Linked DNA regions of Homo sapiens. The protein of the gene in region 2 interacts with the protein of the main gene of each other region in a pairwise test. Each region holds a gene or a part of one and is shown on either strand. Other genes may lie near its edges.

Region 1 (3,747 bases), on a different chromosome or scaffold from region 2:
TATTCATTCATTCTTATTATATCCCCCATATTTCCAGAATAATGAAAGATGTAAATAAAGTAGGGTCTTCAAAATAAGCATTAAGAAAAATTTTTTTTGAGTATTAGAGAATAAAAGCCAAGTTATGAAGAAAGGAACATAGATATTCCAGAAAACAGTAGTCATCTTCGCTCCTATGATTGAGTGCCAAATTTAGCTCTGAGCTTCCGGGCAGCCAGGGCAAGGGAGGGATATGGTACCCGAATGGCTCTCATCTAGTTAAAGGAAATAAACCATTTGTTTAAGAGAGGACTTTGTTCTTCAGCACTTGGTGCCAAGGGGGAAGTTCTGTTGGATCCTGTAGACACAGTAGGAGAGAGGAGTGGAATATTACTTCACAGAGGTTAAGGGCTTAGGCTGCAGGTGCAGGCAGTCTTGGAATTTAATCTTGGTTCTGCCACTTACTGGCTGCCAACCTAAAGTTTGTTTGCTTTCCCCTTTGTGCCTCAGTCTCCTTATCTGTAAAGTGGGCTAGTGGTGGCTGCAAGCTATAGAAGTGAGGCATGTCCACTGTATAGCACAGCACCTGGCACACAGCAGATGCCCAGTGAATAACAGCCCTCACTGGAACCCCTGGGTGCTCACAGACATTATGGCCTCTGTCCATGGCTCAGGTGCGCAGGGTGAGGGGAGCTCTGTGTCTTGGGTTGGGATGGGGGTGTCAGCAGGGAAATGAGCTGAGCAGAGGGTTTGAGTCAGAACAGTAGCCCCCGGTTTTCCCAGCTGCCCAGCAGTGAAGGCAACCTGACATGTGGCATCCATCTCCCCACAGTGCTCCAGCTTTTCTGCAGCTCACCCAAGGCTGCTCTCCGCTATGCTGCTGTTCGTACCCTCAATAAGGTAAGAGTCCAGCTTGGGGGTTGGAGGAAGCTGTCTGATCCAACTGGAGGTGTGTCCTAGCCTCTGACCTGGCTGGGAAGGATAATAGCCCTGGTCACAGTTAGTTTCTTCTAGATGGTGAGATGATCTCATCCAAAGGACTTCTGACTGGGCCAAACCATCAAATGTAGTGACAGCATTGGGTTCCTGCCCTCTCTGTCACTGTCCTCCCAAAACAGGTTGCCATGAAGCATCCGTCAGCTGTGACAGCTTGTAATCTGGATCTGGAGAACCTGGTCACAGATTCAAACCGCAGCATTGCCACGCTGGCCATCACCACCCTCCTTAAGACGGGCAGCGAGAGCAGCATCGACCGCCTCATGAAGCAGATCTCCTCCTTCATGTCAGAAATCTCGGATGAATTCAAGGTACCTGCTACCCCCAGGACACCCACGGCCCCCAGAGGAAGGAGCTCTGTCCCTGCTCTCTGTGGCCACAGCCTTCCTGCCAGGACTGACCTGAGGGGCTGGTCAGCCTTGAGGACTCAGAGGAGGCCAGCAGTTTGCTCTGCAGAGACTTGGCCTTCCGAGAAATGTGCGTAGTCCTGCCTCCAGGCCTCCATCCATATCGTCCCCTTGTACTGAAAGAACAGTAGTTTCCAGGCCAGTTAAGGGTTCATTGATTTGTTGTCCAAGTATTTCTTGAGCACTTGCTGTCTGCTATGTAGAGTGACAAAAGGGGAACATAGCAGTGAACAAAGCAGGTGACTGCCCTCCTGGAGCTTCCTTTCTAGGGATGGGAGAGGAACAGTAAACAGGTAAAGAAAGGAGTAGACGAGATCATCTCAGGCATGGGTACTGCAGTCAAGAGTGTAGAAATACAGCAGGGATGATCCTAGGAAGAGCACAGTCTGGGAAGGCCCTTCTGGAGGGTGACATTTGAGCTCAAACCTGAATCAGTGCAAAGAACCAGGAGGAAAGGCAGGAGCAAGTCAAGGAGAGAGAAGGCCAGTGGGTGGAAGAGCTGTGGGGCCAGTGCAGGTGACAAAGTCAGAATAGACAGGGCTCAATCATGTAAGGCCCATGGTCAGGTAAAGAGTTTTAATTGCAAGGAAGACATTGGAAAGGTGTTCTTTTGGGGCAGGAGGAAGGATGTGAATATTTTTTGAGCTTATATTTTGAAATAATTCATAGGAAGTTACAAAGAAATATACTGAGAAGTCCTATGCACCCCTCCATCAACCCTCTCCTACAGTGCCAGCATCCTACACTAGCACAGGACAATGTCAACCAGGAAAGTGACACTGGCATGACCCATAGAGCTCATTCAGATTTCACCAGCTACACAGGCAACTCCTGTGTGTATATATGTGAAGTTCTATGCAAGATGTCATGTGGAGACTTTCAAAATTGCCACCACAGTGAAGACACTCAACTATCCATCTCCACAAGACTCTTGTTACCTCTTCATAGTCAGGCCCATTCCTACCTCTCTATTCCCTAACCCCTGGCAGCCATTAATTTGTTCTCAATTTCTGTAATTCTGTTATTTCACAATTGTTAATTGATAGAACAATGAAGTATGTCACCGGAGAGTTTTAATCAGAGCAAACAATAATATGAATAATATATTGTGGTAAATTCTATAGTGTGGATTATGCAAAGTAGGCAGCAGTCTACTCTGCCTGTGGGTTACAAGAATGCTTTGCAGGCTGAAATGACACAGTGAGATTTGCATATTAGATCCTTCTGGGTCTGGGCACGGTGGCTCATGCTTGTAGTCTCAGTGCTTTGGGAGGCCAAGGAGGGAGGATCACTTGAGGCCTGAATTTTGAGACCAGTCTGGGCAATGTAGCAAGACCTCATCTCTACAAATTTTTTTTTTTTTTTTTGAGTTGGAGTCTCGCTCTGTTGCTCAGGCTGGAGTGCAGTGGTGTGACCTCAGCTCACTGCAAGCTCCGCCTCCTGGGTTCACGCCATTCTTCTGCCTCAGCCTCCTGAGTAGCTGAGACTAGAGGCACCCGCCACCATGCCCAGCTAATTTTTTGTATTTTTTAGTAGAGACGGTGTTTCACCATGTTAGCCAGGATGGTCTCGATCTCCTGACCTCATGATCAACCCGCCTTGGCCTCCCAAAGTGCTGGGATTACAGACGTGAGCCACCGCACTCGGCCTACAGAAAATTTTTTTAAAAATTAGCCATGTGTGGTGATGCGCACCTGTAGTCCCAGCTACTCTGGAGGCTGAGGTGTGAGGATCACTTGAACCCAGGAGTTCGAGGCTGCAGTGAGCCATGATCATGCCACTGCACTCCAGCCTGGGTGACAGAGTGAGACCTTGTCTGAAAAAAAAAAAAATTGGCTGGGCGCGGTGGCTTATGCCTGTAATCACAGCACTTGGGAGGCTGAGGTCGGCAGATCACTTGAGATCAGCAGTTTGAGATCAGCCTGGCCAACATGGTGAAACCCTGTCTCTACTAAAAAAATTAAAAAATTAGCTGGTGTAGTGGCTCACACCTGTAGTCCCAGCCACTCCGGAGGCTGAGGTAGGAGAGTCGCTTGACCTGGCCTGGAGGTGGAGGTTGCAGTAAGCCGAGATCGTGCCACTGCACTCCAGACAGAGCGAGACTCCGTCTCAAAAAAAAAAAAAAAAAAAAAGAGTCCTTCTGGAGCAGAGTGGAGGGGTGACTGGGTAAAGAGACTGTTGGAGTAATTCAGAAGGAGAGGATGGTGCCTGAACCGGCGGGAGTAGGAGAGGTGGGACAGTGCAAGAGCTTTTTGAGGGATAATGCCTGTTGGCAGGGTTGGTGTGAGGGTTGAGGGGTGGATGTCAACAGAGATGATGCCATTTTCTACTTTGAGCTGACAGTGGTGCTCTTGACTAGTTTGCA
Region 2 (3,747 bases):
ACTTGTGACCTCAGGCAACTCACTTAGCTTCTCTACCCCTCATTTTCTTCATCTACGAAATTAAAGAGTTGGATTATACAGTTTCTAAAATCCCATCTGGTTCTAAATCCTTAGACTCCTTAGACTAAATCGTTAGTGTTTACCAAGCTGTAGAACAAAAGTGGAGGTTTAGAGACAAACCCCAAAGAACAAAAGAACTTGTGTGGGGGTTTGGGGACTAAGACTCCTGGGTCCCAGGCTCAACACTCCACTGACCCATTAGGCAGAACCTTCCCATGCCCAGGTCCAACTGGCCAGTAGCAGGATGATAAGGAAACATTTCAGGGAACATGAGTAGAAATAGAGGAGACCCCTCATTTCAGGGAGCAGCACCTTGACAAGGCAGGAGGATGAGAAGGACCTCTGGAGGGGTCTAAGCTGAGCTGCCCTGAGTCACAGAGATCACAGTGGAGTTTCTCCTGAGACAGGAGTGTCAGCTGAGTGGGAACTGTGTCCCTCATGGGTGGGGTCAGAGGTTACCTTGGCCAGCAGCCGGCGCCCGTCATTATCTAGGATGAAAACAGCCTTGATGGTGTAGAGGGAAGGTTCCTGCAACTGACACCGGAGAGGAGAGTTCCGTTTGGCCCCTGACTCGAGGTGGACACCCTGTGTCTATGGGATCTGCTGGCCCTAGGATACATCCTCAGGCCCCAGCAACCCCAGTCCTCAAGGTCCACAGCTGGTTCTGCCCAGCCCTGTGCCACATGGGCCAACCCAGGTGCCCACTCCACTCCCAGGCAGATGTTCCACTGCAGGCCCCGAGTGGGCGCTGTGCCCGTTGGGTGCAGAAGGTCCTTCCGGGCCCAAGTTCTGTCATGCACTGACTGCTCCAGAGCCCGAGTCGGAGTGTATCACAGAACCTGGGCCGGGGGGGACAGCGGGCCGAGCCTCCTTCTTCCAGCTGATCCCTGGCCGGGCTGGACCTGCGCTATCAGCGCGCCCCCAGGCCCTGGCCCGGGTAGACTCCAGAAGCATGCCCATCACCCACCGGTGATGGGAGCCGAGTCTGGGACGGACAGGCCACTCCTTACCCTCCCCGCGGAATCGCAACTCACCCGCCACCCCCACTCCAAACGGACCCAGAACTTCAGCCCCGCGCCGACGGACTCAGGACAGGCCTCCTCTCCGGTCGGCGCTGGGACGAACTTTTCCTCCCGGGTCCTGGGGCCAGTCAGGGGTGACACAAAGTTCCCAGCCGCCGGGCGCGCGAGTTCTGAGTTGGCTGCTCCCCCTAACCCTGCTCTGTCCCTGCCCAGCTCCCGCCGCCCGGGATCCCCGCGCCCGCCCGCTCCGTACCCGCAGCCCCGAGGGCTCCCCGGCTCGAGCAGGCGGCGCCGGGCCCCCGGCCTGGGCCGCCGCGGCCCCCTCCCCCGGGTGCGGACGTGGCCAGGCCTCGGGCCGCTGCATTCCGCTCGCCGCCTCGCACTGACAGCGCCGCCCGCCGCCTGCCCGCCGCCGCCGCCCCGCCTCCGCGCCGCCCCGCGGCCCCCTCTCGCGCGTGGCCTCCCTTTCCTCGGGGCCCCGTCCTCTTGCTCGTTCTCCCCCATCTCCCCTCCCGCCCTCACCCCACCTCTCCTTCCCCCACTTCTCCTCTCCCTCTCTCCTCCTTGGCTCCTTCCCGAGTCCCTTACATCCCCGAACTCTGCATCCTCAGGGTGCCCCAAGACCAGCCCTCGTCCTGCTTCCTGCCTGCTCTCCGGCCTGTGGCTTTGGTGTGCGCCAGTGTCTATAGGCTGTCCTGGGGCCAGCAGCAAACACAAGCAAAGCCCACTTTTGTCTGTTGACCTCTGGTAGGTACCATGAGGACAAATACGTCAGGTCACCCTTTAGATCTCAGGGACAGGGTCTATAAGCAAGAGCAAATGAGGACAGTTCTGGGGACACCCCTCTGTGAAGAGGCTTTCTCATTCCTCTCTCACTACTTGCAGAAGGCAACCATGGGCCCGGAGACACCTCCCCAGGCTCTCCTAAGTCACAGATATGGCACCATCAGAAGCAAGACAGACGCCCAGCAGCACAAATGCTCCACCAATGACATCGGGCTTTGCAGCATGTTTTGGTTTCTTTGGTCTAAGTCTAACTAAGACAAGCTCTCATTTCAGGGTACACTGGCAAGTGGGAAATTCACATCCCAGTGATATGTTAGTGCTACGTATGCATTTACCGGTAAAAACACTGTGCGTGTATTTTACATTTGACACCTTCACATCCATTATCTAATATAGCCCACACCTGTAAGATAGGCATAATGGACCCTCATTTTAAGCAAAGAGAGACTCAGAGGTTGTGTGACCTTTTCAAGACTATACAGCTAGTTGACTGGGGATAGAACCCAGATTTTTGACTCAAAATTTCTTCCCTATTCTTCTCTTCAAGCCCTCTTATGTTGTGGACCACAGTCACTTACCCTAGATGGTTACAGAATGGGGTTTTCCTCACTGAATGCATCAAGTCTTCTTATCTTCAAGCCTCTGCTGAAATATAATTACCAAAAGGTCCTCCTGACAGCCACCATATCTGACTTGATAGGTCTCTCCTGTCACATTCTCTCAGTTCCTATTTCTTTCTTTCATTGCACTTTTTTCAATCTCTAAATATTATTTTTACTAATATTGCTTGTTTGAGACACGGTCTCACTCTGTTGCCCAGGCTGGAGTGCAGTGACTCGATCTGGGCTCACTGCAGCCTCAACCTCCTGGGCTCAGGCAATCCTCCCATCTCAGTCTCCCGAGTAGCTGGGACCACTGGTGCATGCAACCACTCCCAGGTAATTTTTTATTTTTTTATTTTTTTTATTTTTGTAGAAACAAGGTCTCAAGTCTGGGCTCAATGGCTCACATCTGTAATCCCAGCACTTTGGGAGGCTGAGGTGGGCAGAAGGCTTGAGCCCAGGAGTTCCAGACCAGCCTGGGCAACATGGTAAGATCTAGTCTCTACTAAAACTACAAAGAAATTAGCCAGGTAGGGTGGTGTGACCTGTAGTCCCAGCTACTCAGAAGGCTGAGGTGGGAGAATCACCCGAGTCTGGGGGTTCAAGGCTGCAGAGCCATGATCATGCCACTGTGCTCCAGCCTGGGCAATGGGAGTGAGAATCTGTTTCAAAAAAAAAAAAAAGAAGAAGAAGAAGAAGAGAAAAAGAAAGGAAGAGGAGGAGGAGGGGGAGGAGGGTGATCATGATCAAGGTCTCACTATGTTGCCCAGGCTGGTCTTGAACGCCTAGGCTCAAGTGATCCTCCCACCTCAGCCTCCCAAAGTGTTGGGATACAGGCGTGAACCACCATTCCCAGCCTTTACTAGTTTGTTTATAAGTGTTCCTTCTCCCCGCCCAGACTTTGAGCCCTGCAAGAACCAATGAATGTGACTTTTTGTTTGTTTGTTTTTTTGTTTTGAGACAGGGTCTTGCTCTATCACCCAGGCTGGAGTACAGTGGTGTGATCATAGTTCACCGCAGCCTCAAATTCCCAGTGTCGGCCGGGCACGGTGGCTCACGCCTGTAATTCCAGCTCTTTGGAAGGCCGAGACAGGCGGATCACGAGGTCAGGAGTTTGAGACCAGCCTGGCCAACATGGTGAAACCCCATCTCTACTAAAAATACAAAAAAATTAGCCGGGGGTGGTGGCAGGTGCCTGTAATCCCAGCTACTCGGGAGGCTGAGGCAGGAGAATCACTTGAACCTGGGAGGTGGAGGTTGCAGTGACCCGAGACCGC

Evidence for each region. Proteins that work in one complex are often made in the same cells at the same time.
Region 1: the proteins of COPZ2 (region 2) and COPG1 interact in a two-hybrid assay, tested with the Homo sapiens proteins (2 studies listed by BioGRID).

What each region holds. Positions count from the first base shown.
Region 1 is NC_000003.12:129,259,522-129,263,268, forward strand, and holds part of COPG1 (coatomer subunit gamma-1), read left to right. Parts: intron 1-811; coding exon 812-879; intron 880-1,097; coding exon 1,098-1,286; intron 1,287-3,747. UniProt on the Homo sapiens protein: The coatomer is a cytosolic protein complex that binds to dilysine motifs and reversibly associates with Golgi non-clathrin-coated vesicles, which further mediate biosynthetic protein transport from the ER, via the Golgi up to the trans Golgi network.
Region 2 is NC_000017.11:48,036,332-48,040,078, forward strand, and holds the start of COPZ2 (coatomer subunit zeta-2), read right to left. Parts: upstream 1,467-3,747; 5' UTR 1,447-1,466; coding exon 1,336-1,446; intron 917-1,335; exon of another isoform or gene 830-916; intron 595-829; coding exon 520-594; intron 1-519. UniProt on the Homo sapiens protein: The coatomer is a cytosolic protein complex that binds to dilysine motifs and reversibly associates with Golgi non-clathrin-coated vesicles, which further mediate biosynthetic protein transport from the ER, via the Golgi up to the trans Golgi network.